Linked DNA regions of Homo sapiens: region 2 is linked to region 1. Evidence: fine-mapped expression QTL. Tissue or cell type: whole blood. Region 1 holds a variant in brackets; the other region holds the start of a gene. All regions are shown on one strand. Distances are from middle to middle.

What was found. PIP is the estimated chance that this variant, and not a neighbour inherited with it, causes the effect.
Region 2: CAMTA2 starts here. The variant in region 1 is fine-mapped to the expression of CAMTA2 in whole blood (TOPMed, PIP above 0.99).

What each region holds. Positions count from the first base shown.
Region 1 is chr17:4,959,603-4,962,210 of GRCh38, forward strand. SPAG7 (sperm associated antigen 7) reads right to left here. Exons shown (of 7, transcript NM_004890.3): 2 at 1,184-1,251; 3 at 857-945; 4 at 632-716; 5 at 420-509; 6 at 158-314; 7 at 1-41. Among named protein-coding and RNA genes, the nearest start is that of SPAG7, 6.9 kb to the right of the region's middle. The variant C/T (reference allele first, on the strand shown) is at 1,448.
Region 2 is chr17:4,986,535-4,989,034 of GRCh38, forward strand. CAMTA2 (calmodulin binding transcription activator 2) reads right to left here and starts at 1,141. Exons shown (of 23, transcript NM_015099.4): 1 at 1,059-1,141. INCA1 (inhibitor of CDK, cyclin A1 interacting protein 1) reads right to left here. Exons shown (of 7, transcript NM_001394789.1): 6 at 2,245-2,410; 7 at 1,596-2,020. The coding sequence ends at 1,871. CAMTA2-AS1 (CAMTA2 antisense RNA 1) reads left to right here and starts at 1,210. Exons shown (of 3, transcript NR_187235.1): 1 at 1,210-1,691; 2 at 1,882-2,058; 3 at 2,153-2,500. RefSeq lists a silencer at 621-1,160.

The DNA of each region.
Region 1 (2,608 bases):
CTCTTCAATGGAGCGTGTGTCCCTCTTATTGGCCACGGGCACTAGGGGCAGAGAGGAGGGTAGGGCGGGCCTAGAAATCCGTACCTCAGCCTCCACTGCCCTCCTGCCGCATCCTATGCTCCTCTCCCAGCCACCCCCAGCCGCACTGTGGCCTCACCACAGCCGTAGGTCTTATTGGCCTGTAGCATGTGGGCTGCGTCTTTGGCTGCTCCCTTGCCGATGAGGTGGCTGTACTTGTCCTTGTAGTCGCTGGCAGGGCTCACCACCACAGGCCCCTGCTGGGCTGCCTCCTCCTCTTGCCTCTGGGCCAGCTCCTAGGGGTGAAAGTGGGGGCACTGGTGCTCAGGGCCCCAGCCCAAACCCCCACCCCTCCCAGGTGGTGGGCTTCTGGACCCCAAGGGCTGCAAAGCATAGCTCACCTTCAGCTTCCGCTTCTCCTCAGCCTTCTGGGGGTCCCATTCCTCTCCACGACGGTAAGAGTCTAGCTCTTCATCTGAGGGTGCAAACTCCTGAAGAAGAGCAGAATGATGGGGTCAGAGTCCATACAAATGTTTCATTTCATTCCTTGGTCGGGGAGGGGGGATAAGGCTACAAAGGGGAGAGGAGAGAATGAGGAATTCAGGCCCTTTACCTTTTTGAAGATCATGACATAGCGACAGTCATCATCTTCCCCAAAGGAGAAGGATGTCAGGCCAGCCACTTCCACCACATCATGTCTGGGATGGGATGGCAGAGGGGAAAGAGCATCTTGAGCCAGGAGCGGGCCTAGTGCCCTCCTCTGGAGGAGCCCCCCGCTGGCCCTTTCATGCCCCGCTAGCCACCCATTTCCTTCCTCCCCCAGCCCAGGGACACTCACAGTATGCTCCTCTCGATCTTGTTCATTGGCTGAAACTTTTTCTTGATCTGCCCACTGTCTTGAATGAAATCTGACACCTCCTTCTCCATCTTGGGAGAGGGGAAAGGAAGCAGATATGAGACAATGGCTCCACCCAAGTACCCCTCTCCCTAGCTGAGCCTGGGCCCTTCTACGCCTCCCCAGCACCCTCCCCAGCCTCCAAGCCACTGGCTTCCATGCGTCACCTCTCTCAAGACATTTTCAGCAAAACTGAGTCCTCAACCTTCCAATTTTAACTTATTGGAAGTCCTTCCTGAGTCTGCCTTTGATCACTCCAGTTGTTCTCACCCTTTTACGAAACTCCACTTTCTGTTGTTTCTCTTGCTCTTGTAGTTTCTTCAGGCGGGCGGCCTGTTCTGGGGGTGAGAAATGGCAACATGAAGCCAGGGCTGGAAGCATGGGTGGGAAAGGTTTCTAAGGCTTCAAGTGAAGTGTGGTGTCCACTGGGAGGTGTCAGGCTGGGAAGGTAGGATTAGCGTTTATTCATCAAGCATTTATTGATGTTTATTCTATCTAATAGTCCCCCTTATCCACAGGGGTTCATTCCAAGAC[C/T]CTCAGTGGATGCCTGAAATTGTGGATAGTACTGACCCCTATACATACTATGTCTTTTTCTATACATACATGCCTATGATAAAGTTTAATTTATAAATTAGGCACAGTAAGAGATTAAGAATAATAGACCAGGCATGGTGGCTCACGCCTATATCCCAGCACTTTGGGAGGCCGAGGCAGACAGATCTCCTGGGGTCAGGAGTTCGAGACCAGCCTGGTCAACATGGTGAAACCCCATCTCTACTAAAAATACAAAAATTAGCCGGGTGTGGTGGTGGGCGCCTATAATTCCAGCTACTGGGGAGGCTGAGGCAGGAGAATCGCTTGAACCTGGGAGGCAGAGATTGCAGTGAGCTGAGATCGCGCCATTGCACTCCAGCCTGGGCAACAAGAGTGAACTCCGTCTCAAAAAAAAAAAAGAGATGGCCGGGTGCAGTGGCTCACACCTGTAATCCCAGCACTTTGGGAGGCCAAGGTGGATGGATCATGAGGTCAGAAGATCGAGACCATCCTGACTAACACGGTGAAACCCTGTCTCTACTAAAAAAAAAAAAATATACAAAAAATTAGCTGGGTGTGGTGGTGGGCGCCTGTAGTCCCCACTACTCGGGAGGCTGAGGCAGGAGAATGGCGTGAACCTGGGAGGCGGAGCTTGCAGTGAGCAGAGATGGCGCCACTGCACTCCAGCCTGGGCGACACAGCAAGACTCCATCTCAAAAAAAAAAAAAAAAAAAAGAGATTAAGAATAACAATAATACAATAGAACAATTATAACAATGTACTGAAATAAAAGTTTGTGGCTATGCTCTCTCTCTCTCTCAAAATATCTTACTGTATATAACAGTTCTGGACTGCAGGTAACTAAAACCTTGGAAAGCAAAACCTTGGATAAGGGAGAAGTAGGGACTACTGTATCTGGCACCAGGCGAGACCCTGAAGTACTGAGATTATTAAGACACAATGTGGCCCTTCAAGAGCTCCCAGTTTAGTGGGAGTGACAAAGATCAGAATAATGCTTAACCCCCTTTCCCAACTCCACTGGGGAAACCAATTAACAAATATCTATTTATTTATTTATTTTTGAGATGGAGTTTCACTCTGTCACCCAGGCTGGAGTGCAGTGGCATGAGCTCAGCTCACTGCAAACTCCGTCTCCCAGGT
Region 2 (2,500 bases), 27 kb after region 1:
AAGACTGGCAGGGCTTGGGCCTCAGAGGCCCTAAACCTTGAGCTTTTGCACAGACTGGGGCTATGGTTGGGTCAGGTCCTGGGGGTTGGGACTCAGGCCATCCGGTCCTTGGAGGATGGTTTGGCAAGAGAGCCTGGATCCTGGGGGCAGGGCAGGAGATTCTACCTCCGGTAGAAGCTAGGCCTTTAGAAGACACGCCCTGAGTTCCTTCTCTGTTTGATTTTTCCAAGGGGAAGGGCAGATCTGATAACTGAACCTAACCTATTCTCTCCTCCAGGTTGGTTAGGACCTGATAGAATCTGGGCCAGACACCCAGATTCCCACCCTCAGGACAACCCACCCTCCGGCTGACAGCCCTCTCTACGTAGCTCCCTCTCCCCAAACGCCTCTGCCTCCCCTGGCCTCCAGGCCTAGCCTACCCCATCTACCGCTCTGGCTCCAGCCTGAGCCCCCCGCCCTCCTCGGGGAACAGATGGGAGCTGGCGGAGGCTCTCAGCACGGGCTCCGCCAGGTGTCCAGGATGGAGATGGGAGGAGGCCCGTCGGGCTCGGCTATGTGCAGTGAAGCTGGGGTTGGGGTAAGGACTCCGCCCCAGGGCGCAGGTGCGCAGTCCTGGCTAGGCAGCCTGCCAGGGTGCGGAGCGGGAGCGGGTCCTTGGGCTGCACTTGGGCGGCGCCGGATCGGACGCTTGGCACTCTGGGCGGCCCCCCGGCGGAGTGGTGGTCCCAGGAGAACCTCCGAGGTGGGAGGGTCCCGCCCGCATAGAGGGATGTTCTGGAGAAGCCGGGAGCAGAGTCCGCGGGCACGCGGTGGGCGAGGGACAGTGCAGGTGCCGGGTGCGGGGGTCTCCGGGACAGTCCCCGGCACGCGCTGGTCCGCCGTGGGGCCCTGCGGTGAGCGGCGCCCCCTGGCGCGGGGGAGGAGGACGGAAGCGGGAGGTGAGGGCGAACCGGGAAGAGGGACGGTGGTCCCTGGCGCGGCGCTCCGCGTCGGGACCTGGAGGAGCTGCGCCCTCTGGCGCGGGGGCGGAGAGGCGGGCGAGAGGCCCTGGCTCTTACCTCCCGGGGTCCCGCGGGTGACGGCGGCAGCGGCCATTCTACCCCACACCGACCCCCCCCAGCGCCGGCTGACAGCGGCGTCTAACGTCACTGCGCACGGGGCGGGGCCTCCCAATTAAGGGGATGAGGGTCAGGAAGGGAACCTGGGGTCAGCACACGTGGAGTTCTGGGTGGGGCGCTGGGCAGAGGGACTCGGCTTCTAGGGCTCTGAGCCAGGCCGAGGGACAGACTGCTGGGAAGTCCCCAAAAGGGCAGCAGCACTGAGGGGCAGGATTCCAGGGTCCTGGAGGCGGAAGCTCGGCCGACTGACTCCCAGTTCGAGAGAACGGGGCGGGGGCAGCCCACCAGTGCTGGAACCCGAGGGGCCGGGCGAGGAACGCTGGACTGGGAGCAGGACCCTTCTCGCCTCGGACAAGACTCCTTGTCTGGGGACCCAGCCCGACTTCATTGTAGCTGGGTCCTCGAGAAAGCGAAAGGAGCCCTCCTTCCCCATTGGCCTCTCCATCGCTGCATCCCAAGAAGAAAGACAACTCGGGCTCCACTTGCTTGCTTTTTAATAACAGAGCAGAGAGAATACAAGGCCAGGAGCGGGGCCTGGAGGAAAACAGGACTTGGGGTGCTCCTGTGAGAGCGGTGGGTTGAGATGGGAGCCCACGGGGGCTGTTAATGCCTAGTTCAGAGGATGGGAAAGGCAGTTGGAGAGACGAAGGAAGGGGAAACGCCTTCATGTCAGCAATGAGGGTGACTCTAGTGACGGAACTAGTCTTGGGTCCCTGGGGCACCACTAGCCTCTCGGCATCGGTGGTTTCTCCTTACTCTTCAGACGCTGCCAACTCCATCCCCCAGGGATTGTGAAGGGGGTTCCTTCTGGCTGTGACAGTGCTGAACGAGGCCAGAGAGTGCAGCTGCCTGGAGGCACAAGCCTCCTCCTGATCCAGGGGGCTCCAGGGAGACCAAAGCAGCTGTCAAGATGAGAGAAATTGAAAAAGAAAATGGAAAAGTAGGTCTTCTTTCCAGATTTCCTAGTACCCAAGCTTAGGTACCTCGAAGTCTCTGGTTCTCACCTACGTTATTTTTGTTTCTCTCAAATCCAGCTCTCCAGCCTGGCTCTCAGCTTCTGCATCTCCATGCAAGACCAGAGACCCACATCACTCCCTCACTCCACCCAGTTCCACTCCAACAATACCTGGGCCCTGCCAGGAGTGAGAAAACGGTCCTCTTCCTGTGGATAGGTTGCTCTCTCCTCTTCCAGATCAGGGTATTCATTGGTGCTGGGGAATCCACAGCCCTCTTCGCCAAGCACCACTGGCTCAGATGCAGCCCCAGAGCTGCCCCACTGGGCCTTCTTCAGTCTGTGGAGACTTTAGGCTGAGGAGAGAAGTGCCTGGAGGCCAGGCTTCCTGTCTCTCCATTCTTCACCTTTCTGTTCTGAAATACTTCCT